Linked DNA regions of Homo sapiens: regions 1, 2, 3, 4, 5 and 6 are each linked to region 7. Evidence: fine-mapped expression QTL. A gene starts in region 7. Each other region holds a variant in brackets. All regions are shown on one strand. Distances are from middle to middle. Region 1 overlaps DLGAP4 (DLG associated protein 4). Region 2 overlaps SAMHD1 (SAM and HD domain containing deoxynucleoside triphosphate triphosphohydrolase 1). Region 3 overlaps MROH8 (maestro heat like repeat family member 8). Region 4 holds the start of VSTM2L (V-set and transmembrane domain containing 2 like). Region 5 overlaps CTNNBL1 (catenin beta like 1). Region 6 overlaps SAMHD1 (SAM and HD domain containing deoxynucleoside triphosphate triphosphohydrolase 1). Region 7 holds the start of SAMHD1 (SAM and HD domain containing deoxynucleoside triphosphate triphosphohydrolase 1).

Region 1 (4,066 bases), 540 kb after region 7:
CACGGAGACTCATGCTTATAATCCCAGCACTTTGGGAGGCCAAGGTGGGAGGATCACTTGAGCCCAGCAGTTTGAGACCTGTCTGGGCAGCATAGTGAGACCCTGTCGCTCCAAAACATTAAAAAAATTTGGCCAGGTGTAGCCGTGTACACCTGTAGTCCTAGTGACTTGGGAGGCTGTGACGGGAAGATTGCTTGAGCCTGGGAGGTTGAGGCTTCAGTGAGCCGTGATTGTGCCACTATACTCCAGACTGGGCAACAGAGTGAGACCCTAACTCAGAAAAAACAAAAACAAAAACAAAAACAAAAACAAAACTCAAACTCCAGCCTGCTCAGCCCACCAAAGCCATGCCAGTCTCCTCCTTAGTTACTTCCCCAGCGCTCCCAGCTCTTGCCTGCCATGGGGCCTTTGCCCATGCTGTTCCATCCACCCCTCAACACTTCACATACTCGGCTGCCTCTATTGATTTAGATCCCTGATTAAACGTCACCTCCTCAGAGGCCACCCCAGACCCCTGTGTCTAGAAGTCACCTCCCTCCCACTGCGTTCTCTCAACACCCCTCCTGATTGTTTTCCAAACCTGACCAGGGTCTCTGATTATCCTGCTTGGCTCCTCACATACTTGATTAGTGCCTCCCGCGCTCTGTGAGCTCCAAGAGGGGAGGGACCGCACCTGTTTCATTTTCCACTCTATCCCTGGTGCTAAGCGTAGAGTTGGCACCTAGTAGGTGCACAATCAACACTTGTTCAATGAATGAGGTAGTCAGACAGAGCCTCAAAGGGAGGGGAGCTGGAGAGCTGCAGCTGCCCGATGGGAGAGAAGGGAGTTGATGGATAGGCCTCTCCACACCTCTTTTTTGCTTCTTCTCCATGTCTGAATCCCACACAGGCTAGGCTGGCGTTTCTGTTCCTGAGAACATTCCTTAAAACACCCTATCCTTAGCCAAGCCTTTCCCTGCTTAAAATCCTTGAAGCTCAGAGAAGACACACCCTGCTCCAAGAAATCTTCCCTGACCTTAAAAGTCGGGGGTAAGGCCTCCTCTGGGTTCCCCATGATGGGAGCTCCCACCTGAGGAGTCACAGATTAACCTAAGTGTCCCTCTGAGCCAGAAGCAACGACTCTGTACAGAGCTGGCCCTCTATACATGGTGGTGCATGGAGAGGGCGACAGACATCCTGGTTCGCCCGGGTTCCACCAACTGTCCTGGAGTCCCCGATGGTTAGTGCTGTTTCATTCTCAAAAATGTCATGGTTTAGGCCGGGTGCGTGGCTCACGCCTGTAATCCCAGTACTTTGGGAGGCCAAGGCAGGTGGGTCTCTTGAGGTCAGGAGTTCGAGACCAGCCTAGCCAACATGGTGAAACCCTGTCTATACTAAAAATACAAAAATTAGTCAGGTACAGTGGCATATGCCTGTAATCCCAGCTAGTTGGGAGGCTGAGGCAGGAGAATCGCTTGAACCCGGGAGGTGGAGGTTGCAGTGAGCCAAGATCATGCCACTGCACTCCAGCCTGGGCGACAAAGCAAGACTCCATCTCCGAATAAATAAGTAAGTAAATAAATAAATAAGTCATGGCTTAGATAATGAATTATACGCTCATCCCAAGCATAAAGGACCATGGGGACATACAGCAAAGGAAGACAGGTCTGTGGCTGACATAAAGCATATGAGTCTGGTCTGAGCTTCTTCCCTGGACTCCCAAGCCAAGACCCCTTCAACCCCTGGGGAATCAGGTTCCCCCATCCTCACCTAGGAAAAGTCTGAGTTGAGGGGATGAGAGGGTGATCCTGATGATGATCATGGCTGGCCCCTCCCCTCCATCTCCAGGCCTCACCTGGGGACCACCACTTGAGATTCCAGGCTTCAGTGCCACTCCCTCTGCTGGCCCCAGGGGAGGTTGAGTAGGAGCCTGCCCCTGGAGATAGTGTATGTGTGTGTATGGCGTGGAGGCTGGGAATGTGGCTCTGGAGCCAGCCTTCTTGAGTTTGAATCCTGGTGCCAACATTTACTTGCTGTGTGACCTTGAGCCACTTACCTAACCTCCCTGAGCCCCAGTGTCCTCAAAGGGTTGTTGGGAGAGATCAACGAGGTAACACAGACAGATGGTTCTCAGCACAGAGGCTGGCATACAGCAAATACGCAAGTATTGCTGTTA[C/T]TATCCCTAACAATGAGTCCCACCTACACAAGGAGGTCAGGGTGCTAGAGGAAGGATGGGCTCTAGAGCCAGACAGGGCCGGGCACTGTCTCTATTTAGCCATCTAGAAGTTCAGAGAGGGACTGAGATTTGGCCTAGTCACACAACATATTGGTGGCAGCTGCAATTTGTACCCAGACCTCTGGACTCCTAGGCCAGCGCTCTCTGGACGTTTTCGTTTGTTTTGTTTCTGTTTTTGTTTTGTTTTGTTTTCTTTTGAGACAGAGTCTCACTCTGTCACCCAGGTTGGAGTGCAGTGGCACAACCTTGGCTCACTGCAACCTCCACCTCCAGGTTCAAGCGATTTTCATGCCTCAGCCTCCTGAGTAGCTGGGATTACAGGCATGTGCCATCATGCCTGGCTAATTTTTGTATTTTTAGTAGAGACGGGGTTTCACCATGTTGGTCAGGCTGGTCTCAAACTCCTGGCCTCAGGTGATCCACCTGCCTTGGCCTCTCAAAGTGCTGGTATTACAGGAATGAGCCACTGTGCCCAGCCCTCTCTGGAGGTTTTGAACCAACAAAGGTTGGGTATGTTCTGGGCTGTGAGCTCTTTCTGCATGGCCCTCATCCCTCCTTGCATTCCCAGAGCACAACTCTCTAGACTTGCTCTATACATATGATTAAACTTAAATAGAATTAAATTTAAAATTTCAGTTGCATTTGCCATATTTCAAGTGCCCAGTGGCCACAAATGGCTAGTGGCCATTTCCCATGAGGCTTACATGGAACTGGAGGGGGACAGGAACAGGGCCTCTGCCCCCTGGAGCCCCCATGGAATACTCTCTAAAGCCTGTGAGTTGTGGAATGTCACCCAGCACCAAACCTCTCATGTCTGATCCAACTCTCTCACGCTCCACTTTGCTAACTGGGCTCAAGCAGGGGCTGACACTTGCCCAAGGTCACACAGCAGGTGGAGGGCTCAGTTCTCCTGATCCTGAGCTTTCTGCACACTCAGGCTGGAGAATCAGCAGCCTGGCCATGCTTGGAGAAGTGCTAGTCAACAGAAACAACTTTTTGCTGATGAATAAATACCAAAAACCACCCTGGTATGGACATTCCTGGGGCCTTGCAGAAGAGCTGGTGGGGGACAGCTGGCCACAGCTGCAGGGCGGGCACCGATCAGCCCTAGAGATGGCTCTCCAGGTCACCACTGGGACAACTATAGGGCTGGGAAGGGGGACGACGCAGGCACTCATCTTTCCGCCTTCCCATTCCAGCAGGGTCTGGATGGACCAGGATCACCCCCTTGGCTGCTGTTTTCAAGCAGGGTTTGTTGTTGTGCTTGTGGGGGCTGGGACCCCAGTCCTGGCTAACTCACCTTGTGACCTCAGGCAAGTCACCTTTTTCATCTCAGTTTTCTTCATTTGAAACTGGAGATGATTATCCCAACGGTGTGGGGCTCTTGTGAGGGGCAAACGGGACCAGCTGGATAGGAAAGAGCTTGTAAACCAGGCATCCTTAAAGGGGGAAGAGAACAGGTCTGGACCCTATTTGACCTGGGTATAAATCTCACTCTACTTCTTCCCCATGGTGTGACCCTATGCATGTCAGCTGGCCTCTCTGAGCCTTGGTTTCTTAACATGGGAAGCATGTATCAGACACTTCACTTGCCATACAATGGAATATTATTCTGCCATAAGAAGGAATGAAGTTCTGATCCATGTCTCAGCAGGAATGAACCTCAAAAACATGCTCAGTGAAAGAAGCCAGAGGCAAAGGCCACCTAAGGTAGGACTCCCTTTATATGAAATGTCCAGAATAGGCCGGGCGCGGTGGCTTATGCCTGTAATTCCAGCATTTTGGGAGATCGAGGAGGGTGGATCACGAGGTCAGGAGCTCAAGACCATCCTGGTTAACATGGTGAAACCC
Region 2 (4,066 bases), 25 kb after region 7:
CTTGCTCTGTCACCCAGGCTGGGGTGTAGTGGTGTGATCTTGGCTCACTGCAAGCTCCGCTTCCCAGGTTCACGCCATTCTCCTGTCTCAGCCTCCCGAGTAGCTGGGACTACAGGTGCCCGCCACCAAGCCCGGCTAATTTTTTGTATTTTTAGTAGAGACAGGGTTTTTACCATGTTGGCCGGGCTGGTCTCGAACTCCTGACTCAAAGTGATCCACCCACCTCAGCCTCCCAAAGTGCTGGGATTACAGGCATGAGCCACCACACCTGGCCCTAGTGGATTTTCTTGAAACTGCTATTTTAATCCAGATATTTTCAATCTGAAGATTTCAAAAAGTTTTTGGCATTAACATTCTTTTTAGTTACACAGAATTGTCCATTTATCAAGCCCTGTGTGGTGGTGCATGCTTGTAGTCCCAGCTATTCAGGTGGCTGAGGCAGGAGGATGACTTGAGGTCAGGAGTCCAAGGCTGCAGTGCATAATGATCATGCTTGTGAATAGCCACTGCACTCCAGCCTGAACAACATAGCAAGACTCTGTCTCTTCAAAAAACAACAAAAACTGCCCTTTTATCAGATTTATGTAAAACCTGGTGACTGGAGACTGCTCGATGGAGAGCTTACTTTTCCATGTTTCTGCTTCCTGTTCTCCTGTTTTAGAAATAGGAAGAAAGGGTTTGTCCCTTTTTGTGATTGTATTTTTAGATTATTAATTTCTTTTGCTATTCAAGTTAAACTAAAAAGATTAAAGAATTCAGTTTGGCTGAGTGTGGTGGCTCACGCCTGTAATCCCAGCACTTTGGGAGGCTGAGACGGGCGGATCACCTGAGGTCGGGAGTTCGAGACCAGCCTGACCAACGTAGAGAAACTCCATCTCTACTAAAAATACAAAATTAGCTGGATGTGGTTGCACACGCCTGTAATCCCAGCTACTCGGTAGCCTGAGGCAGGAGAATCGCTTGAACCCAGGGGGCGGAGATTGTGTTGAGCCAAGATTGTACCACTACACTCCAGCCTGGGCAACAAGAGCGAAACTCCGTCTCAAAAAAAAAAAAAAAAAAAAGGAAAAAGTTTTTGTTGGTTTACAGATGTTTTTCTTGTTCTAAGGCTGCTTTTGTTTTTAAGGTCATGGGCCATTTTCTCACATGTTTGATGGACGATTTATTCCACTTGCTCGCCCGGAGGTGAAATGGACGGTATGTATTCATACAGTCAATAGTCAATAAAAAGAAAGACTATTTAAGCAGGTTATTTAGTTAATTTATCTGTTTGGTTCCACTACTGTGTTATAAAATACTTCCCCATTACAGTGTCCAGGGTGCTTTCATTCACATATATATATATATGCTTTTGTTTGGTTCTCACAGTAGTCTGTAAGGAAGTTATCGTTATCTCCCTTTTTACAAATAAAGGAACTTGAAACTCTTGGATGTGTATTGATGCATCAAAAATCACAAAGCCGTTAAATACTGGAATCAGCAATACAAAACCAGTTGCCAGTTTAATACTCCTTCTGCTCCATTGTACTACTGTATAATAAAAGGCCAACTCCAGTTTTGACACATTTGGTATGACCACGAACTAACTTACCAGCCAAGTCATATATATTAAATGAATCATTTTAAAATTAGGCATTTGCAGGTGGCTGTCCCATATTTTGGAATCAATTTTTGAGAAGTAAAATTAGGTTGGTTTTTACTACACTGTATTTCTGGAACGGGAATAGAAAAAGGATATTAATATATATTGAAAACTTCTTACATGTCAACCACTTTTTTTTTCTCTCTCTCTTTTTTTGAGGTATAGTTCACATACAATAAGTTGTCCAGATCTTAAGTTCAGTGAGTTTTGACAGGCGTATACATCCATATGACTATTACCCAGTCAGGATATAGAACATTTTCATCTTCCTGAAAAATTCCCATGTGCTTTTTCCTAGTCAATTCTCACTCCCCCTCACCCCACCATCACCTTCTGATTTTTACAAACATAAATGAATTTTGTTGTTCTTAGACTTGATTAAGCAGAATCATATAGGAGGTCCTATTTTATGCCTTGCTTTATTTACTCAACATAATGGTTTTGAGATTTGTTCATGTTATGTGCCTCAGTAGTTGATCCTTTTTTTTATCGCCTACGTAGTGTGGCATTATGCAAATAAGTCACAATTTGTTTACCCTTTCTTGTTTTGTTGGAATTTGGATTGTTTTCAGGTTTTGGTTGTTATAAATAAGGTTGTCGTGCATATTATCGTACAAGATTTTGGTAGAAATACATTTTCTATGTTGTTGTAGTGTGGAAAGTTAATTACATTTTTAAAACAAGAAATACATTCAGCAGAAATACATTATTTTATAAAAATAAAAATAGATAAAATAAAGAAATACATTTTCATTTCACTTAGGTAAATACCGAGGAG[C/T]TAGAATTGCTGGGTCATATGGTAGATATGTATTTAATTCTATAAGAAACTACCAGAGTTTTCCAATGCGGTTGTACCATTTTACACTCCCATCAGCAACATACTGGAGTTCCAGTTGTTTTACAGCCTCATCAACATTTGACCTTTCAAATTAGCCCTTCTAATGAGTGTCAAATGGTATTTCATGGTTTGATTTTCTAATGTATGTTGAATACTATTTCCTGTACTTTGTACTTTGTTATTGATATATCTTCTTCTGCAAAGAACTCTCAACATTTTACTCGTTTAAAAAGTTTGATTGCTTGCTCTTTGATTACTGAGTTGTAGGAATTCTTTATGTATATATATGGTTAGGTATATGTATTGTGAATATTTTTCCCCAGTGTCTGGCTTGGCCAATTCATTTTTTCATGGTGCCTTTTGAAAAACAGACGTTTTCAATTTTGATGAAGTACTCTGGTTCTGCAAGCCAGTAAAATGGGTAGTTTCTCACCAGTTTTTCTGTCCTGGGGCCTGCCCTTAGGCAAAAAACCATAAAACCGGAATGTCACCCAGCACCTCTCCCTTCTAAGTATTGAGGTCTAACATCCACTTGGTTTTGGTCTCTCTCCAGGACCTTCAGGGAGTTGTCCAGAGCTTATAGTTGTTTTCTTCTGCAGTTGATCTAATAGGATCTTCTCAATCATTACCAAATCTATTCCTTTAAGCATTTTGCCTTTCACATTTAAATCCTTAGCTCGTGTACAATTTATTTTTGTGTAAGTATATGGGAGAAATCTTTTTTTTTCTTTTTTTTTTTTTTTGAGATGGAGTCTCACTCTGTTGCCCAGGCTGGAGTGCAGTGGTGCGATCTTGGCTCACTGCAACCTCCACCTCCTGGGTTCAAGCGAGTCTCCTGCCTCAGCCTCCTGAATAGCTGGGATTACAGGCATGTGCTACCACACCTGGCTGACTTTTGTATTTTTAGTAGAGATGGCTTTCACCATGTTGGTTAGGCTGGTCTCGAACTCCTGATCTCATGATCCACCCACATCGGCCTCCCAAAGCGCTGGGATTACAGACGTGAGCCACCGTGCCCGGCCGAGAAATCTAATTTTTTAATAGTTCATCCTATCCCCACTGACTGTAATACCAACCCCAACATTTATTAACTTCCCATATATGATGAATCATTCTGCATTCTGTTCTGTTTCCACACTTGTTACTTGGGGAAGAAAAAAAAAGAAGAAAAGAAATTTTTATCTGAGAAATATGAGCCCCTTTACATTATCAGGCCCAGAGAGGCATTGAAATAGAACAGCAATCATGTCACGCCCCCTTGAGCTAAATAATTATTATCTCTTGAAGCCAGCTGTTATGTGGGATGCCAGGTAACCATAAAATGCCATATATCCTGTACTTCATAATATGTAGCCAATCACTAACTAATGTTATTTCTGTAAGCCAGTGAACATTCCTGACTAACAACTTTTGTTATCACCTCCTCTTTGTGATCACCTCCTCCTCCTGATTTATGCTCTTTTCTTTTTTTTTCTTTTCTCTCCCTTCTGTCTCTGTCTCTCTTTTTCTCTTTCTCACTTTCTTTCTTTCTCATTCTTTCTCTTTTTCCCTTCCTTCCTTCCTTTCCTTCCTTTCTTTCCCTTCCT
Region 3 (4,066 bases), 200 kb before region 7:
AGTCGTCCCACCTCAGCCTCCCGAGCAGCTGGGACTACAGGCACACGCCACCATGCCCAGCTAATTTTTGTATTTTTTTGTAAAGATGGGGTTTCACCATGTTGCCCAGGCTGGTCTCCAACTCCTGGGCTCAAGCAGTCAGTATAATCCCTCCGGCAGTGCTGGGATTACAAGCATGAGCAACCACACCTGGCTGTCCTCAGAGTTAAACTTTAAAATTAGTAGCATGTTGTTAACTTTATTTCTTTCCAAAGCAGATTTGAAAGAGCTAAAAACATTCAGAAGTACAGAATAATTAATTGAAGAATTGGGCTGAAGAGAAAGTAAGTCTAGAAAATAAGCTCTGGCCAGGCACAGTGGCTCACGCCTGTAATCCCAGCACTTTGGGAGGCCAAGGCGGGCAGATCACCTGAGGTCAGGAGTTCGAGATCAGCCTGGCCAACATGGTGAAACCCCGTCTCTACAAAAATACAGAATTAGCTGGGCGTGGTGGCGAGTGCCTGTAGTCCCAGCTACTCGAGAGGCTGAGGCAAGAGAATCACTTGAATTTGGGAGGCAGAGGTTGCAGTGAGCCAAGATCACACCATTGCACTCCAGCCTGGGCAACAGAACAAGACTCCATCTCAAAAAAAAAAAAGAAAAGAAGCTCCTAAGCTCCTATATAACAACCAAACCACCCACCACCCATGTCTTTGTGCCTTGCTTGTCATTCTACCACTTTTATTTCCAACCTGAGCTATAATAGCATTTAGCAAAGTATTTTGAGATCTGGTAGCAACATGGAACTTGTCACTCCACATTTCTTTCTAAACACAATAAGGATGGTATCCCAAATCTTCCTGATAAACCATTTAGCCTCCCTTTATTTCTCACAGCACTTGGTCCCCTGGTTACAGTCAGTCAAAGACCATGAGCGGGAACGGGCCACGGCCAGCATGGCTCAAGTTCTGAAGTGCCTATCCAAACATCTCAACTTGAAGGTGAGCGGCCCTTCAGTTGCAGAGGAGGAAAGATCCAAAGCCATTCCCTCACTGCCGATTTCTCCTCCTCTTTATAACTCCCCAGGCTGGTTCTGTGTCCCCTTCGTGCTCATGTACTATCATAGCACTTAGCATTGTCTTCTTATCTGCTCTTCTCCTGAGCAGCTTGGGGCCAGTTGCTGTGTTGATTAATCTTTGCATCTCCATTGCTTAACACAACAGCTGGAACATAATGATATAGTAACTATAACCTGAAAATACCTGAGGCCCATGGTGGCTAGTCTCTGTATAGTATTATATTTGAGTACAGCAGGCAAATTTAAATAAATCAACTTCAATATCTCCCAGCAACTCAAAGAGAGTGGTACTATGGCACCTCTTCAGATCCTCACATTTCTCTTTCTCTCTCTCACTTCTCAGTTCTGAATCATCTCCCCTATGGCATCTCATTATTATGATGATCATTATTCAAGGCAGGGTCTTGATCCATCACTCAGGCTGGAGTGCAGTGGGGCCATCATAGCTCACTGCAGCCTTGAACTCCTGGCCTCAGGCAATCTTCCTGCCTCAGCCTTCCAAGTAGGTGGGACTACAGTCACACGCCACCACGCCTGGCTAATTTTTATTTATTTATTTATTTATTTTGGTAGAGATGGGGTTTCACCATGTTGCCCTGGCTGGTCTCAAATTCCCAGGTTCAAGTGGTCCTCCTTCCTTGGCTTTCCAAAGTGCTGGGATTACAGACGTGAGCCACCACGCCCGTCCTCTTCTGGATTTTTCTGAGGAAGGTCCATAGTTTTTTTTTAAATCAATTTTATTGAGGTATAATTTGTATACAATGAATTTATCCAATTTAAGTATACAGTTCAATGAGTTTTGACAAATATATATTATCTGGGTCTCTAACTTTTTTCATATTCTCAAAGAAATCTAAAGAATAAAGAATAAAAAAGGAAATGCTGAAGAAGCATTTAGTAATCAAACTAGGAGCGTAATTCTTCAGTGGCCTTTTTTGTCTTGATAAAGTTTGGGGGTTCTTAATATTATGATTATAAAACTTAGGGCCGGGCGCGGTGGCTCACGCCTGTAATCCCAGCACTTTGGGAGGCCGAGGTGGGCGGATCACGAGGTCAGGAGATGGAGACCATCCTGGCTAACACGGTGAATCCCCGTCTCTAATAAAAATACAAAAAATTAGCCGGGCGTGGTGACGGGCGCCTGTAGTCCCAGCTACTC[G/A]GGATGCTGAGGTAGGAGAATGGCGTGAACCCGGGAGGCAGAGCTTTCAGTGAGCCGAGATCACGCAACTGCACTCCAGCCTGGGCGACAGAGCGAGACTCCATCTCAAAAAAAAAAAACAAAACTTATTAACTGTTTGTCATTCAGTGACAGGTGCAGGCCACCACGCCTGGCTAATTTTTGTAGTTTTAGTAGAGACGGAGTTTCACCATGTTGGCCAGGCTGGTCTCGAATCCTTGGCCTCAAGTGATCTGCTTGCCTCGGCCTCCCAAAGTTCTGGGATTACAGGCAGAGCCACCGCGCCTGGCACCTTCCAAGTTCTTTTTTGTGCATGAGTGTGTTGGGGTGGGGGCTTCCATTTCCAATTTGTTCTCTACATATAGCCAGAGTCATCCTCTTCAGACCCATGTCATTCTTGCTTTTGTTTTGTTTCCTTGTTTTCTCCCCTGTGTTTTCTTTATTTTTCTTCATTTTCTTTTTTTGCCCCATGTCACTTCTTTGATCCAGTGATTTCCAAACTGATCTTAGAATACGGGGTCATGTCTGATGTAGGTCTGTCTACCTCTCTACACCTAAGTCCCCTGACTTATCACACAGCAGCCACCTTTACCTTCCTTCTTCCCACATAAGGCTCATCTTGCCTCATGGCCTTTGCACTTGCTGCCTTCTCTGCTTGGAATGACCTTCCCTAGCTCTGCACAGAGCCAGCCCCTCCTGGTTCTTTAGCACTGTGTTCAGATGTCTCGACCTCAAAAGGGCCTCTGCTCACCACAGACAGACCTACGCTTGCTCTCTGTCTCATCACTCTCTCCTTCCTAGGGCTGTCTAGAATCAGAGGTTATCTGGCTTGATTCTTTCTTTACTGCTGTGTTATCTGTTTCCCACTAATAGAATGTAAATTCTACCAGTGATTATGCTTGTCTTTTTTTTTTTTTTTTATGTGAGACAGGGTCTTGCTCTGTCACCCAAGTTGGAGTACAGTAGCACAATCACAGCTCACTGCAGCCTCAACCTCCTGGCCTTAAGCAATGCTCCTGCCTTAGCCTCCTGAGTAGCTGGGACTACAGGCATGTGCCACCATGCCTGGTTAATTTTTTTGTTTTTTATACAGATGGGGGTCTCACTATATTGCCCAAGGTGGTCCAAACTCTTGGGCTCAAACAATCCTCCCACCTCTGCCTCCCAGAATGCTGGGATTACAGACATGAGCCACTGTGCCTTGCAATTATACTTGTCTTGTTCAGCACAGTAGCCTCAGTGCCTGCCTAGCACAGAATCGGCCATGTGGTTGATGCTCAATTCAATATTGATTGAGTAAATGTGAGTCAACCCATGTCCCTTCTCTGCTCAAGACCCTCCGACGGCCAAAGTCCTCACAATGTTCTACAGGTTGCGACACCTTCTGGCCCATTCTTCATCTACTTCCTATTTCTTTCCCTATCGTTAACATCGCTGCAGCCAACCTAACCTACTTATGGTTCCTCAGAAACACCAAACATACCTTCTCAGTCCTTGGCGCTTGCCATTCTCTCTGCCCAGAATACTCTTCTCCCAGGTATCAATCTCTCATTTCAATATTAGTGAGGCCTTCCCTGACCATCCTAAAATAATAATTCTTATCCCTTTCCCCTGAATTTTTGTTAATCATGACATTTATCATCATTTGATACATAATACATTTTACATATTTATTTTGTTTACTTTGTGTTTCCCCAACTAGATCATCACCTCCACAAGCAGGGATATTCTCTTTTGTTGACTGCTTATATCCCCAGTGCCAGTCATAGTTCCTGGCATATAACAGACACTGTATTTATTGGTTGATTGAATGAATGAAGGTTATATCAGTG
Region 4 (4,066 bases), 950 kb before region 7:
CACGGCAGAGGGGCAGCTGTGGGGGCTCCTCGGCAGTCACTACTTGGTGACTTTGAACCTGGCAATGTCGGGGGAAGGCAGCCTGGCCCCTGCAGAGCAGCCTGGCTTCTTTGTTTCTTTAGGGACACAGGGAGACCCAGAGGGGTGGCTCACTTGCCCAGAGCCACACGGGGGTTTCAGGAGAGAAGCCAGGTTCCCCAGCAACTAGGGGTGCCTCCTTCTCATCTAGCCCCTGTCCTGGGCCTTAGCTTGACCTTCCAGGGTGCAGAGGGGAGATTACAGCTGGTTGGGCAGAGCTGTGCCCCCTCAGCTTACCTGGCACCAGGGGACAGGTAGAGACTGTCACACAAAGGGCAGACAGACCCTGCTTTTCTATGGGGGGGAGCCACCTTGGGGCCTTGGGAATAACAGACTGGCACCCAAGTCCCTGGGGTCTGGTGCTCTAGGGACAGAACGACCATAAGCCTCAGAGTCCCATTCCTCATACCCCTCGGGACTGCAAACTCAGGGAAGGCCCTCCATGGAAACCCCTCCTAGTGTAAGTTCCAACTGTGCCAAGGGACTGAGCGGAGCGAGGAGAGGAGGGGTGGAGAGGGAGGAATTCCCAGTTTCCCTAGAATGGGAGGGAATCTGACAGGGAGATGAATGTCCTGGAAAAAAGCGCTGTCTTTGCCTGACAGACCCTGGGGCCTGTCCTGGCTCAGTCACTCTCTTACTGTGTGACCTTGGGCAACTTCCTTCACCTCTCTGAGCCTTGGTTTCCCTATCTGTAAGTTGAGGATCAAAAGAACCCTTTCCTTATTTACCACCGCTCTAGCCAGGTCGGTAGAAATGAGGTGAGGGGCATGAAGGGTATGTAAATGATGCACACAGCAGTTACTACCAAACATGGTGAGGCAGAAGGGGGCGGGGAGTCATGGTTCCCAAAAAGCAGAGACCCTGAGGATGGCTTCGAAGCCCCCCTCTCCACTGGAGCAATCCCACTCATGTGTCATACCCCAGCAAAACCTTCCCTGATTATCTACCCTGCCTTACCCCCACTCACTCCCATCAGAATAAATCATCCAATTATCTGGCCTTTGTGCAAACCTCCCCACAGCCCTGGGCCCACAGTGCCCAGCACTGGGGCTGCAGCCTCCCCAACAAGGCTGTCAGCCTGTCTAGTGAAGGGCTGCATGGAAGAAAGGTCTCCTTTGGTTTCATCTATGCTCGAGCCTCCATCCCAGAGCCAGGCTCACAGGGGTCAGGGGGAGCCCCCACAGCTGCCGGGCTCATACAGTCCAACTCTGCTGCCAACTTGGGCTCCTTCGGGGCTAGCAGGAGCTTCTGACACTCAGCCAGCCAGTGCTGGGAATGCTTGTCTGCTCCCCGGCTTCCACAGCGGCTGGAGTTGAGATTTCCCACATTTCAGTCCTCTAGGGCCGAGGATGAGGATGGGGGTACCCTATGGAAGGATGGCACGGCTTCCTGCCCATCCCCAGAGGCAGACAAAAGCACCCGGCATTCCACTTCCACTCCCACTCCCATGCCTCTGGCTGCAAGCAGCAACCCCAACTACTCCGGTGGCTCTGAGGGGCTTCCACCAGGTGCCACCCGCCCAACTGGGAGGCTGCAGCCCCAGGCGACCAGTTCTCAAGAAACAAGGTCTTCTGCCCCCAAGGACCTTTCCAGTGGTATAGGGCTGGGTGTGGAGAGGAAGAGGACAAGGGCCTCTGTGCGGTTAAACCCAGAAGAGTAAAGGCAGATGGGCAGAGAGGAGTGGGTGAGCAAATTGTGTTCATGTGTGTGTATGTGTGTGCCTGTGTGTGTGTGCGCGCGCGCGCACCAGTGTGTCTGCAGGTGGGCAGGCAAGAGTTGTGGCGAAGCGTGTGCGCCAGCTGGCAGAGTGAGCCCACCGGCGCAGTGCCTGATGTGCGTGTGTAGTGGGCATAAGTGTAAAGGCTTGCAGTGAGGAGGGGGACCTGAGGTGTGTGGAGATGTGCAGGGTAGGAGTTGTGAGTGTGAGAAAGCAGCGACTGTGGCTCTGAGTGTGTCCGCGGCTGTGCATATCGGTGTGGCCATGCAGGTGTGCGTATCCGCGCGAGTGTGTGGGGAGGAGGTTCGGGGGTGCGCCCCGGGTGCCCCCTTCTCTGCAGGGCCAGGGTGCCAGGGCGGGTCCACCGCGCCGGCAGGGGGCGCCCCGGGATGCCCGCCACGACTGGCGCCGGTTCGAGCCCCGGGGCGGCCAAGTTGGAGTGGCGCGGCCCGGGTTGGGGTTTGGTGGGGAAGTCCGCGGGGGCGGCGACCGAACTCACCGTGGCCGGAGACGTGGTTGTCCCAGGGCGCGTGGCCGGCGGGCCGCGTGGCGCCGCCGAGTTGCAGGAAAAGTGCCAGGTAGTGGAGGGCGCCCAGCGCTACGGCGAGCGGGGCCCCCATC[G/C]TGCGCTCTCGGGCCGGGGGCGCCGCCGCCTCACATCTGGGCCCCGGAGACCGCAGAACCGGCGCCAGCTGTCCCCTGCCCTGAGCGGCCTGGCTGCCCGGCTCCGGCAGCTGCCCCTCGCCCGCTGTCCCCGGACCCGGCCCAGCTCCCAGCCCTCGCCCGGCTCCGGCCCAGCCCCGGCTTCGGGGAGCGAGCGCACGCCCAGCCGGCCGCCTCCGACTGCGGGACTCTTCCCTTCCGCGGAAGGCCACGCCGCGCCGCCGCCGCACCCTCCTCCCTCCTCCCGCCTCCCTCCTCCCCTCCCTCCTCCCCTCCCTCCTCCCGCTCGGAGCAGGCGGCGGAGGGATCTGCCGCTTGATTTATCATCAAAGTTTTGCCCAGGCTGGGATTTTTAAAGCGGTACCCGCAACTTTCCCCCGCCCGAGTGCGGAGGCGGGGCCGGGATGGGGCGGAGAGAGCCACCCCAGGGACGCGGTTCCCGCAAAGCACGACCCAACGGGCTTCAGCCACAGAAATGCCGTCCAGCGGGGAGAGGGAGAAAAGCCAGGGCACCCGCCGCCAGGCCAGCGCACTCAGAGGCTCCTAACTTTACCGGCAGGGCGGGGCCGGGGTCAGGGGCCAGTGGGGCTGGGGGTGAGGGCGAGGTAGGGTGGGAGCCTGGGCTGAGACCCAGGGGACCTGGTGATAGCTCTGCCGCCGACCTCGGCTCGCTGTGTGATCGCGTCCGGGTGTCTACCCCTCTCTGAACCTCGAAGTCTTCATCTGAGAAATAGGGGTAATAGCTGTCTGCGGGGGTCCTGGTGAGGATTTGCGAAATCGTGCATGCAAAGCGCTTAGCATAATGCTGCCTACGTGGTAGGAGCTCAGTAGTTATTATTGTCGGTGTTCCCCTTTCTGGGACTCAGTTTTCGAGTCTTTGTAATGGGAGAGAGACAGGCCAGTTAGTTGTTGCGGCTCCTGGCTCTTGAAGATACTGGACCTTATGTGGTGGATGGGATCGCCCCCTTCTGGACTGTAGGCTCCTTCCCTAGACCAATGAGCCTTGATGGTGTGTGTGTGCATGAGTGTGTGTGTGCGTGTGCGTGTGCGCGCGCGTATGCGTGGGTGTATGTGTGTGTGAGTGTGGCAGGGGAGGGGGATAGGGCACCATTCCCATTCCCAAGAGCAAGAATCCAACAAAGTCCTCCAGTTCCTTCCCAAGCCGTGTTACTGGGGCTGATGGGACAGACAGGAGGGCGGAACTGTGGTCCCATTTAAAAGATAAGGAAGCGCCTGAAATCAGGTAATTAGCTTCTCTGAGGTCCCACGGCGAGTCGGGCGAGGCCCCTGACTCCTGGGCGGGGTCCCTCCTGCTCTCATCCCTTGCCCTTCCCCAGGCCTCCCTGCTCACACAGCCTGGTCCTCCCGGTTTCAGCACCACGGAGGAGGACAGCGCCAGCCCCCCCCCCGCCCCCCGCCCCCCGCCCCACCCGGGCCCATCCTTTGGGCACCGTGGACAGCGTCTCAACTGGCCCTTTGATGCTAGGGTTCACACCGTGGACAGACCCTCAGACTTTCTTCCCCGTCCCCGTCGAACAGGGTCAACCCCTCCGACAGCCCACTCCCCACTCCAGAACACAGGTGGATCCCGCGTCCAGCCGTGTGTACAGC
Region 5 (4,066 bases), 810 kb before region 7:
TAAAGTTCAAGGGCATGATCACACATCATCTTCCACTTGACCAAAGAGGATGGATATAAGAGAAGAGGAGGAAATAAAAAAGAGACAGATGAGAGGGTTTGAAGGAGGCTTCTTTTTCTATCTGGTACGATCTGCCAATAAGCTTTCTCAAGAATGAGATTGGGATTTTTCTGCCTACTAGGAGTTTCAGGAATTTCATATTTAAAACACAGTAATAACAATAAAACCCCACACCCACTGAATCTTGATCAAACAAGTTTTGAGAATAATATGGTAACATGGTCATAATGCAAAACTCAGGCCTGTTGTATCCTAGCTGTAACCTTTTAGCTTCCATTCTTGCCCCTCCAGTCCATTATCCACACAGCAGCTAGATGCTCTGTTTAAAATGCTGTCAGGCTATGACACCACTCCCCTGCTTATATCTTCTAATTACTTCCCTTCACCCTGGCAATGCCACCCAACCTCTTCACCAAGGCCCACAGAGCCCAGCGTGGTCTGGCCCTGACTCTGCTTTCTCCCCTCGCCCCAGCTGCACATTAACAAGACTGGCCCCTTCTCTGTTCCTTGAATATGTCAACCTCAGTCTTGCCTTAGGTCTTCTGCCCTTTTCCCATCCTGCTCTTGATCATTTTGAATGGCTGGTTTCTTCCAGAACTCAGGCCTTGCCTGACTATTTAATCCAACCTGACTTCCCAGCTACTCTACATCACATCACTCTATTTTAATTCTCTTAAACAGAGAACCACTCTCTGATAGTTTTCTTGTTTATGTATCTACTGTCTCTCCCTACACTCATACCTTGTGAGCTCCACAAAAGCAGAGGCTTTGTCAGGCTTGCTCACAGCTATATAGCTGGTTCCTACAATCAGGAACACATCAAGCATTCAATAAACATTTAGTGAACAAATGAACAAATGAATTTTGCTTTGGAACAAATACAGATGAAGGTGAGAACATGAATGGAAATGGGAAGGAATAGAATCCAGGAATTTTCATAGTAAGTACCCTTACAGCAACATAAACCTGGCCAACCTCAGCCTCACCTGGGCAGCACAAATCCATTGCCAACCAAGTCCAAGGCAAACCAAGATAGGGCTTCAAAGTTTAACATTTCAGTAGAGTTAATTTAGTGCAGGAATGAGTATGGAGGGTAGTCCCCTGGCAGTCCACATCAAAGCCACTTTTTGTGGAACTCTATAAAGCGTTTCTATAAAGCAAATGCTGGCTCCTAGACACTGGCCAGCTACACCACCCAGCCACACTTCCATCTCTGTTGGCTGGGACACCTCCATATGCTCTCATATTAAAGCCCCCTTTCAGAGGCCATCACCGATGCCTGCATCTCTGCAGCCCTTCCTGATTATTCCATCAGAAGCGAGCACTCTCTCTTCATGTCCACAGAACACTGCCCCTCTCATAGCTGTTTTCAATGTTCTGCCTTGTATTATCATTACTTACTTCTTCCTTTTTTTTTTTTTTTAAACTAAAGCTCTATCCTCTCATTTCTTATTTAGGCCCACCCCATCCAAATGTGGTTTTATTGAGTGTTTGTTCAAAATGTTTTTGAAATATTTTTTAAACTGAAAAAAATGTTTGTGAACTCAATATTCACAGACATCTCACTGTGTGGTAGATGATACATACAATTTTAACCTGACATTTGCTAAATGCTTAATATCTGCCAGGCATAGTACCTTTATAATGATAATGGCCAACATTTATCAGGTGTTTACTCTGTGCCAGACTGTTCTAAAGACTTATTAAATATCTCACTTGTTCATCACTTTGGTACTGTATGATAGGCACTACTGTTATCTCCATTTTACAGAGAAAGAAACAGTATGGAGAGGTTAGTAACTTTCCCAAGGACACAGAATTGGTAAATGACAAAGTCACTGCTCTGACCACTCCCCTGACGGGGATCACACCTCAGGAAGGACAAACTTATAAACAGACATCTATAATCCAATGTGACAAGTGCCAGAATGTACAAAGTGCTAGAACAACACATCCTGCTGAGGTGATGAGTCTGGAAAAAACTCAAAAGGGAAGAGATAAAGGGATGAGAGGTAGTATTCCAGGTAGCCCCAGAGAAGCAAGGCTAGGCAAGTGGAAGGCAAAGCATGAGCGAAGGCATGGGACTACCTAGCACATGGCAAGTTTGGGGACTGGCAAGTAGAAAAATGACTGTAATTTAATCATCATTCTCAAGAAGTCCAAAGTCATCTTTGGAGAGGTAAGCCAGAGAATTGCCATCAAAGCAATATACCCTCTCGCTTACCACTCTTCAGAAAAGAGTCCATTTTCCAGGCTACCAGATCAACTTGTTACAAAGCACAAATATTTGCCTTTTGCGTAAGTAACAGCAGTGGATATGAACCAAATTTTAAAACCCCGAAGATCCCTGAGAATGCCAGGACAGTGTTCTTTCCCCACAAATGTGCCATCCTATTGCTTAGGACTTCCAACTGGGAAAAAGACCAAAGCAATAAC[T/G]GCAAACTGCACACCACAATAAATTCTGCCACATGCCCTCTAGCCTCTGCTCGTGCAATTCTAGGCCTCAGATATTGGCCTCAAATTAAAACTACAAAGACAACTCAACCCTTGTAATATGAGAGTACTTATCAAATTTCTTCCTGAATGCAGCCAAGAGTAAAAAAAGTAAATGGAAGACCACCGCTGGTTCTGTTCTCTGATATTTACTGATGACTTCCGACTGGTTGCAGACAAGCAAATAATCTACTGGAGTCCAGGAATGTTCAATGCTTGTGATTCCTACCAGCCCCACCAGGATAAACCTGTAAGAGTCAAAATCTTAAACTAATATAATAATAATAAAAATAAAAACTAAACTAAACAAACAGAACATCCTGTATAGCAGTTACCTAGTGGCTCCCCAGACTGAGGGTGAACTGTTTCTTTCCAAACAAACAATAAAATCTGCCAAGATGCAGCTTTTGTCAGTGGGCTTGACAACACAGAAAAAACAAAGGGGGCTTTTGAGTGAATTGCTGTTTCTGGGTATGTTTTACATGCAACAGCCAGGCTAGCTGTTCCTCTCTCGTCTTCCCTATTCAGACAGGCAAAGGATGGTAATTAAAATCAGCCCAGGGACCAAGCAGGAAGGCTCATTCAGGGCCATGTAATTAACCTCTGGAAGGTAAGACTGCACAAACGACACTGCAGGGACACAGAGTAGGAGCAAGTGCCACAGTCTTTCCTCAGACGCCCCTCAAAACAAAACGACATCCCAACATCATCCTCTTCTTTCTGCACAGTGGTTCAAACGAAAAATAAATGCCCTGAATTCTACAAAAGTAGCAGTTTGCTCTCTAAAGGAGCCTGAAAGAAAAATGGCCATAGAAATTTTCATTATATTCGGTCATAAATGGCCCTGCTGGACACTAGCCTCACTCTCTGTAAGAGCCAGTTCTTCATAACCAGTGGGTTCACAACCCCTTCATTCACACCAAATGCCAACAGCAAGCACGGCACATGGGAAATTTCTAGTGTCGAGAACATTATGAGAAAGGGTGAGGAGGGGGTGGGCAGTGTAGCAGTGGGGTTTCGGGATCATCTGGGACCCCAGGCCCAGCCATTCTGATTCAGTGGGTCTTGGGTAGGACTAGAAAGTAGCCAAACAAGCAGCCCAGGTGCTTCTAATACTAGTGGCTGGAGTAATCTTTGATCAACTGCTAACTGAGTCAAAACCAATACTAACATTCTTACCAGAGAGAAAAGACAAGAGAAACAACAGAAGAAGAACAATCCACAGAGCCTTGAGGAGGGATACAGCTCTGCAGGTGGACAGAGCTCCACAGGTGGTATCAGGGTAGGGGCTGGACTAGATGCACTTCTGCCGCTGGCCAGCTGGGGTGCCTTTGCAGCTTTGTGGCCCTTTCTGATCACCAGTGAACTGGGGAATCTGGGGCAGTGGAAACAGAATTGTGTTGGGGATCAGAACATGCAGTCTCTTTTATCAGCTGTCACAGGACGGGCTGAGCGACCCAGCGGGAGGCTTCACTTCTGCAGCTGGGTTTCCTCACATGTAAGGCAGTTTGCC
Region 6 (4,066 bases), 42 kb after region 7:
GTTGTTATTGTTGTTGTTTTGTAATTCAGAGATATCTAGTTTCAAAGCCTGGCACTGTTTCTTCCTAACTTGGTTAAATCAAAATTTACTTCATTTCTGCATCTATAAAATGAGGGCTGAATACACCTACCTTATTGTTGGGAGGAATAAATAAGATGGTGAATGCAAAGCCCTGCGACAGTGCCTGGAACACAGTAAGCATGGCAGCTCACAGCTTACCAAGCACAAATTTAGTACGGTGGAGAAGCAGTTGTCTTTAGAACACTGTGCCTCATTATTTTGTTTCCCTAAAGTAGAAAGATTTCCTTAAGTAAGACATAAGGCAAATATTCAAAATTTCTCATAAACATAAATTTTTGCAAAATGATTTTTAGGATTACAGATGCTTTCCTCAAAGCAGATGACTACATAGAGATTACAGGTGCTGGAGGAAAAAAGTATCGCATTTCTACAGCAATTGACGACATGGAAGCCTATACTAAGCTGACAGGTAAGAAGTAACAGGTAACATAGATGGTCCATCTCAGATAAACTGTAAGAAGTCCCTGAATTGCCAATGAGTTATTTTTCTTTCTTTTATTTTTCATTTTTAAAGATAATTATTTAATTTTAAAAAAATAAAGAAAGGGTCTCACTATATTGCCCAGGCTTCTCTCAAATTCCTGGGCTCAAGCGATCTTCCTGCCTTGACTCCCAAAGTGCTAGGATTACAGGTGTGACCCACTGTACACAGCCGATGGAACGATTTTAGCTTCCCAAGTAATTATCTCCTTTTGAATTTGAGTTTTATTTCTGTCTTGTACCAATAAAGTGACTTTGATAAAGGGATTTGACCTATCTGAATCTTTCATCTATAAAATGAGGGTAATGATACCTAGCATATAGTTTTGTTGTGATGTTTAAATGAGGCATAGCACCTAGTATAGACTTGATACGTAAGTACTCAATATACATTATTTAACTTTTTTTTTTTTTTTGGAGATGGAGTCTCGCTCTGTCACCTAGGCTGGAGTGCACTGGCACAATCTTGGCTCACTGCAACCTCCACCTCTTGGGTTTCAGCAATTCTCCTGCCTCAGTCTCCTGGGTAGCTGAGATTATAGGCATGCCCCACCATGCCCAGCTAATTTTTGTATTTTTAGTAGAGACAGGGTTTTACCATATTGGCCAGGGTCTTCTCGAACTCCTGACCTCATGTGATCCACCCGCCTCCATCTCCCAGAGTGCTAGGATTACAGACGTGAGCCACTACGCCCGGCCCATTATTTAACTTTTAAATTTAATTTTTTTTTATTTATTTATTTTCAGACAAGATTTTATTCTGTCATCCAGGCTGGAGTGCAGTGGTGCCATCACAGCTTATTGCAGCCTCAACCTCCGGAGCTCAAGTGATCCTCTTGCCTCAGCCTCAGCCAAGTAGCTGATTTGGCTACTTGGGACTATAGGCATGTGCCACCACACCTGGGAATTTTTTTTTTTTTTTTTGATACGGAGTCTTGCTCTGTCGCCCAGGCTGGAGTGCAGTGGCACAATCTCGGCTCACTACAAGCTCTGCCTCCCGGGTTCACACCATTCTCCTGCCTCAGCCTCCCGAGTAGCTGGGACTACAGGCGCCCGCCACCACACCTGGCTAATTTTTGTATTTTTAGTAGAGATGGGGTTTCACCTTGTTAGCCAGGATGGTCT[C/T]GATCTCCTGACCTCATGATCCGCCTGCCTCAGCCTCCGAAAGTGCTGGGATTACAGGCGTGAGACACCGCCCGGCCACACCTGAGTAATTTTTTTAATTTTTGTAGAGACAGGGTCCCATTATGTTGCCCAGACTTGTCATTATTTAACTCATACCTGGACTAATATTGAACACCAAAAAACTGACTTGGCCATTTAACATTATTTTCATTATAAAAACACAAGATGCCAGGAACATCTGTCCACACTTCTGCAGAAACAAAATCTGCAGCTTAGTGTGGAAAGGAGGAAAGAGAGGTAAAGGGTAAAGGTGGTTCTTTTTTTTTTTTTTTTTTTTTTTTGGAGGGGGGTGGACAGAGTTTTGCTCTTGTAGCCCAGGCTGTAATGCAATGGCACGATCTCGGCTCACTGCAACCTCCGCCTCCTGAGTTCAAGCGATTCTCCTGCCTCAGCCTCCTGAGTAGCTGGGATTACAGGCGCCCACCACCATGCCCAGCTAATTTTTTTGTATTTTTACTAGAGACGGGGTTTCACCATGTCAGCCAGGCTGGTCTGGAACTCCTGATCTCAGATGATCCATCTGCCTCGGCCTCCCAAAGCGCTGGCATTACAGGTGTGAGCCACCGCGCCCAGCCACAGCTGGTTCTTTAATGTGGGAAAGTATTGACTGAGATAAAGCAAAAGAAGTAGAACAAAAAGTGTACACCAGTCAGAGTTCTTAGTTACAAATTATGAAACTGTTTAACTAAAAATAAAATTGGGCCGGGCACGGTGGCTTACGCCTGTAATCCCAGCACTTTGGGAGGCCAAGGCAGGCAGATTACCTGAGGTCAGGAGTTCGAGACCATCCTGTCCAAAATTGTAAAACCCCGTCTCTACTAAAAATACAAAAATGAGCCAGGCGTGGTGGCACGCACCTGTAATCTCAGCTACTCAGGAGGCTGAGGCAGGAGAATCGCTTGAACCCAGGAGGCAGAGGTTGCGGTGAGCAGAGATCGCACCACTGCGCTCCAGCCTAGGCAACAGAGCAAGATTCTGTCTCAAAAATGAATAAATAAAAATAAATAAATAAATAAAAATAAAATTGGAAAGCAATCACATAGCTTACAGAATCCGTGGAAAGGCTGGAGGCTCTGAAAATGGAGAAAAACAACAGAAGCCAAGTGACCTAAGACACAGCCTAATCACTCTACCGTAGCTTCCTGCCGAGAGTGCTGCCGTTCTACCACAGCTGGATTCTATTTGCTGCACACTGACAGAATGAAACCTAAACTAGCTCCTCCTAAACTGTGTTTGAAGAACCAGTTTTTAAAATTACCAACCCCTTGCAGATTGATATTTCTGTAAAGTATGATAAAAATGAATTACTAGAAAAATGAAATGGGGGGAAAAGGCATGTAAAATACAAGCCCAAATTTTTATTATTCAACTTGACAGACTTCACATTACACCTTTCAGTAAATTCAATCAAAAGATAAATAATAGGCCAGACAAGGTGGCTCGTGCCTATAATCCCAGCACTCTGGGAAACCAAGGCAGTTGGATCGCTTGAGCCCAGGAGTTTGAGACCAGCCTGGGCAACATGGTGAAACCCTGTTTCTAAAAAATTTAAAAATTAGCCCTGGTGGTGCGTGCCTGTAGTCCCAGCTACTCAGGATGCTGAGGTTGGGGGGATCACTGGAGCCCAGGAGGCCGGGGTTGCAGTGAGCCAAGATTGCACCACTGAAGTCCAGCCTGGGTAACAGAGCGAGACCCTGTATCAAATAATAATAATAATGATAGAGAAAAAATTTAAAAATTAAATTACAAGAACTATATACATTGTTCTTTAAAAATATACATGTAAGGCTAGGCAGGGTGGCTCACGCCTATAATCCCAACACCTTGGGAGGCTGAGGCAGGTGGATCACTTGAGTTCAGGAGTTCAAGACCAGCCTGACCAACATGGTGAAACCCTGTCTCTACTAAAAATACAAAGTATTAGCTGGGCGTGCTGGCGGGTGCCTGTAGTCCCAGCTACTCGGAGACTGAGGCACGAGAATCAATTGAACCCAGGAGGCGGAGGCTGCAATTAGCTGAGATGGCATCACTGTATTCCAGCCTGGATGACAGAGCAAGACTCCTTCTCAAAAATAAAATAAATAAATAAGTAAAATAAAAGTTAAAAAAAAAATTGAACAAGCTGAAGATATTTACTTTTAATTTTCATTCATAATAATGCAAGTGATGCCATATTTTAAAAAGTCAGCCAGGCATGGTGGCTTACGCCTGTAATCCCAGCACTTTGGGAGGCCGAAGTGGGCAGATACGAGGTCAGGAGTTCGAGACCAGCCTGGCGCCTGTAATCCCAGCTACTCTGGAGGCTGAGGCAGGAGAATCA
Region 7 (4,066 bases):
TCGAACTCCTGACCTCAGGTGATCCACCCGCCTCGGCCTCCCAAAGTGCTGGGATTACAGACGTGAGCCACTGCGCCTGGCAGGAACACCTTTATACTTTCCTCCATGGGTCTGCAGGAAAAGGGAGCCATTGAAAATTGTGGGTTAAATAATAGAAAATAGTTTTATATCAAAACCCCCTTTACTTATTTATTTATTTTTTATTATTATTATTTTTGAAACAGAGTCTTGCTCTGTTGCCCAGGCTGGAGTGCAACGGGAAGATCTTGGCTCACTGCAACCTACACCTCCCACATTTGAGTGATTCTCGTGCCCCCGCCTCCTGAGTAGCTGGGATTACAGGCATGCACCACCAGGCCTGGCTAATTTTTGTATTTTAGTAGAGATGGGGTTTCACCATGTTGGCCAGGTTGGCCTTGAACTCCTGGCCTCAAGTGAGTGCTCTGGCCTCCCAAAGTGCTGGGATTACAGGCATGAGCCACTGCACCCAGCCCCAAACCCCCTTTAACAAGCAGTGGTTGGCAAGTTATCAAGACCATGGACTTTGGAACCAAGTTACATCTCTTGGGTTTGAATACAGGCTTCATCATTTCCTAGCTGTAAGACCTTGGGCAGCTGGGTACGGCTGTGTAATCCCAGCACTTTGGGAGGCTGAGGTGTGGGAATCACCTGAGGTCAGGAGTTCAAGACCAGCCTGGCCAACATGGTGAAATCCTGTCTCTACTAAAAATACAAAAATTAGCCAGGTGTGGTGGCAGGCGCCTGTAGTCCCAGCTACTTGGGAGTCTGAGGCATGAGAATCACTTGAACCTGGGAGGCAGAGGTTGCAGTGAGCTGAGATCACGCCACTGCACTCCAGCTTGGGAAACAGAGCAAGACTCCGTCTCAAAAAAAAAAAAGAAGACCTGCGGCAAATTACTTTTTCCTACATCCTAAGGTAATTGTGATAATTAAGTGAAGTAATATGTGTAGAGCCCTTAGAACTTTACAATATTTGTAAAACCCTTAGAAGTTATAAAAATTATTTAATATTTAAATAATTTAATGAATGTACTTAATTCATTTAGTATTATGTATAAATATAAAATTATTTTATATTTGTAAAGCCCTTAGAACCGTGCCTGGCACACAGTAAAGCTCTGTTTGCAAATAATATTTTGGCTCACCAGTAGACCACTAGTTCATACTGCTTGATGATAAGCTATTCCGCCTCATTCGTCCTTGACCCCCTAAACAGGTCTATGCCTTGGTTGCTGGGAAGGTGTGTTGGCTTTATTAACAGTAATAGTGATATGTCCTTTTACCAGGCAATTGCATGGACCAGTATTTATAGGGAAGTTTGAGCCCTGCCGCAGAGGGGTTAAGTGATGGGAAAATGCCTGCCATTTTCACATGCTGTTACAACCAGGCAGTAAAAGTCCTCAGAAGTTAAATTTTAAGTAATCAGACTGGCCACTTTCCTTCCTCTGGGAATGCAGTTGGGATGGAGGGCTCTGTCTCTAGTTGGAAAGAAGTCTGAAGTCCCCTCCTGTGTGGACACCAGACAACAGGTATCCCAGGGCCCTCTAGTTGACCAGCAATACTGTGGAATGAAGACACCCTCAAGTCACATTTGAAATCATTCCGGGTTCTTCCAGTTCAGCACCTTGACTGTTTTCCTCTTCACTGGGAAGGTGCTGGCAGCCTGACGGCCTTTTAGGCTTCTTTTAAGTTTGGGGCATCTGAAACCCGGCCAAGGTGCGGCGGGTAGTGTACTCATTCGAAGGAGAATACCCCCAATTCACTAGACGAGCCCCTAATTGGGGGTGCGGTGCCGGGCGCGCTCTTTCCTCCCCCTTTCCACCAGCACTGCCCTCAGTTCTGCTTCTAGCCACGCCCTTTCGCGTTCACGTCCAGCGCCCTGGCGGGATTGATTTGAGGACGACTGGACTGCCATTGCGCCTGCGCAGGGAGCCCAAGGCAAGAGCCGCTAGGCTGCCCTGCCCGAAGGGCTCAACTGTCAGTGAGCCTGCGCAGGAGGCCAATAGGCTGCCAATACTCCTTGGACTCCCCGCCAGGGCCCTGCTGTCAGTGCGCCTGCGCGCGGGTCCGGCGCCGAGGTTCTTGACTGCTGTGCCGGACGCCAGGTGTAGCCATGCAGCGAGCCGATTCCGAGCAGCCCTCCAAGCGTCCCCGTTGCGATGACAGCCCGAGAACCCCCTCAAACACCCCTTCCGCAGAGGCAGACTGGTCCCCGGGCCTGGAACTCCATCCCGACTACAAGACATGGGGTCCGGAGCAGGTGTGCTCCTTCCTCAGGCGCGGTGGCTTTGAAGAGCCGGTGCTGCTGAAGAACATCCGAGGTAGCGGCTCCGGAGGGGCTGAGGGGCGAAGGGCGGCGACCTGGGGCGCGGGCCAGGCGCCCTGAGGGAGGGGGCCCCACGAGAGGACCGAGGCCGAGGAGCGAGCCCTGCGGCGGGAGGCACCCGGGAGGGCGGACCTGCGCTGGGGGCGCCGAGGAAAGGAAGACCCGAGGCGGGGGAGGGAGCCCTGCGGCGGGGGTTCCCAGGAGGGCCTGCGGCATGGGGCTCCCGGGACTGACTCCCCGAGGCGGAGGAAGAAGACATGGGGTCGCCTGGGATAGGCGATTCGTAGGATGGGAGCAGGCTCCCGGGATTGAGGACCTGGGAGGGGCAGTCGTAGATTGGGATCTCACTCTCGTGGGTTTCTTCACTAACTTGCCACCCCGGCGCGGGACAAGCGAGACTCGGGTCCCTTTTTTTTAGTTAGAAGGAGATTTTTCCCCAGACCTTGGTGGGCGGCTTGCTGTCATCCAGGCTCGCGGGACCCCTCCGCGCTAACCGCAGCTCCTTGAACACTTGCCACATCAGAGGATGTTCTGGGGCTTTTAGGTTTCGGTTTCCTCCCTGAATTGAGGCTTTTCCTGAAGGGGAAGGAACTGGCTTGGTTAATCTCTGAATTCCCATCACCTTCCTTGGCATCCCAGCAGCGCCCGATAGGCGTGTGTTGACTGCACTTGCAGAACATGGTAAGGAACATGTTTTGCTCTTTAAAAGCAGGTTCCCCTCCAAAATCTGAACCTTGGGGTTGTTCAGTTGACCACTGAATCCCCAGCATGCCACAGTTTGGCCACATCCCCTGGAGAAGTGTTTAGGTTGAGTTTTAATCATATTTTACTGATTCGTATCCAAGCATCCATCCTTGTGAATTCTACTCAACTTTTTGTGGTGGGTGTGAGATTTGACTCCTGCCTTATATCCTCTAGGTGTCCAATAGGAAGGTGATTCTTTGGTGGTTGGGATTTGCAAATTTAGTAAATTTTTGCATTTGTTAGGTGGGGCCCTGTTTGGCTAGGTTGGAAACTGGGGTAGGAGGAACATTAGTGGTTCAGGACCCAAAGATAGCTTGAATGGGTATGGGAAATTGCATTTCTCCTTTTTTTTTTTTCTTCCCCCTTTTGCCCTTTCGTTTCCCTCCACTGCTGGGATGGATTATTACTTTATTTTCTTTGACTAGCAACAAGTGGAGTGAAGTAGTTCCATATTTTCTGTCTCAAAATGTGGTTGGCTCTCTGTTTCAGTGGTTTGTAGATTAACTCGTTACCCTCCAGAATGATGTGTGTTCCTTAAACCTACAACCTATTGCTATCAAAGACACTATGTGCTTTCATTTGGTAAAAACTGACCAACTGTTCCCAATTGCTCATGTCTTAGCTTCTGCTTTGTCTTGACCAAACTTTATTCGGACTTCTCTCTTCCCTTATGGGCCCCTCAACTCTTGCTTACCCCCAGATCTGACCAGGCAGGCACTAAAGCAGTGGAATATGCCTCCCTCTGGTCAGTTTCTTTTGAGAACCGGCTGACCACAGTAGGATGCTGTCCTGTTGGGCTACACTGCTCATTTTCCCTTGCTCGTCCAGGTTCCTATCCAAAGATTCTGCTTATTTCTGCTTGCCCGTCCTTTATCATATAAAAGAAGACCCTTTTTCTGTTGGATTCTTTTTTTTTTTTTTTTTTTTTTTTGAGACAGAGTCTCGCTCTGTCGCCAGGCTGGAGTGCAGTGGCGC

Evidence for each region. PIP is the estimated chance that this variant, and not a neighbour inherited with it, causes the effect.
Region 1: its variant is fine-mapped to the expression of SAMHD1 in whole blood (INTERVAL, PIP 0.95).
Region 2: its variant is fine-mapped to the expression of SAMHD1 in whole blood (INTERVAL, PIP above 0.99).
Region 3: its variant is fine-mapped to the expression of SAMHD1 in whole blood (INTERVAL, PIP above 0.99).
Region 4: its variant is fine-mapped to the expression of SAMHD1 in whole blood (INTERVAL, PIP 0.98).
Region 5: its variant is fine-mapped to the expression of SAMHD1 in whole blood (INTERVAL, PIP 0.98).
Region 6: its variant is fine-mapped to the expression of SAMHD1 in whole blood (TOPMed, PIP above 0.99).

The regions. Positions count from the first base shown.
Region 1 is chr20:36,413,611-36,417,676 of GRCh38, reverse strand. The region is part of intron 2 of DLGAP4 (DLG associated protein 4); the gene reads right to left. Among named protein-coding and RNA genes, the nearest start is that of DLGAP4, 110 kb to the right of the region's middle. The variant C/T (reference allele first, on the strand shown) is at 2,156.
Region 2 is chr20:36,924,313-36,928,378 of GRCh38, reverse strand. SAMHD1 (SAM and HD domain containing deoxynucleoside triphosphate triphosphohydrolase 1) reads left to right here. Exons shown (of 16, transcript NM_015474.4): 6 at 1,127-1,197. Among named protein-coding and RNA genes, the nearest start is that of SAMHD1, 25 kb to the left of the region's middle. The variant C/T (reference allele first, on the strand shown) is at 2,421.
Region 3 is chr20:37,151,977-37,156,042 of GRCh38, reverse strand. MROH8 (maestro heat like repeat family member 8) reads left to right here. Exons shown (of 25, transcript NM_152503.8): 9 at 876-980. Among named protein-coding and RNA genes, the nearest start is that of RPN2, 25 kb to the left of the region's middle. The variant G/A (reference allele first, on the strand shown) is at 2,217.
Region 4 is chr20:37,901,700-37,905,765 of GRCh38, reverse strand. VSTM2L (V-set and transmembrane domain containing 2 like) reads right to left here and starts at 2,639. Exons shown (of 4, transcript NM_080607.3): 1 at 2,295-2,639. The coding sequence starts at 2,415. The region is part of intron 2 of LOC124904896 (a long non-coding RNA gene); the gene reads left to right. RefSeq lists an enhancer at 2,376-3,339. The variant G/C (reference allele first, on the strand shown) is at 2,417.
Region 5 is chr20:37,758,405-37,762,470 of GRCh38, reverse strand. All of the region lies in intron 5 of CTNNBL1 (catenin beta like 1), which reads right to left. Among named protein-coding and RNA genes, the nearest start is that of CTNNBL1, 66 kb to the right of the region's middle. The variant T/G (reference allele first, on the strand shown) is at 2,497.
Region 6 is chr20:36,907,642-36,911,707 of GRCh38, reverse strand. It overlaps SAMHD1 (SAM and HD domain containing deoxynucleoside triphosphate triphosphohydrolase 1), which reads left to right. Exons shown (of 16, transcript NM_015474.4): 11 at 375-490. Among named protein-coding and RNA genes, the nearest start is that of TLDC2, 34 kb to the right of the region's middle. The variant C/T (reference allele first, on the strand shown) is at 1,687.
Region 7 is chr20:36,949,712-36,953,777 of GRCh38, reverse strand. SAMHD1 (SAM and HD domain containing deoxynucleoside triphosphate triphosphohydrolase 1) reads left to right here and starts at 2,070. Exons shown (of 16, transcript NM_015474.4): 1 at 2,070-2,342. The coding sequence starts at 2,135. RefSeq lists a silencer at 2,356-2,575.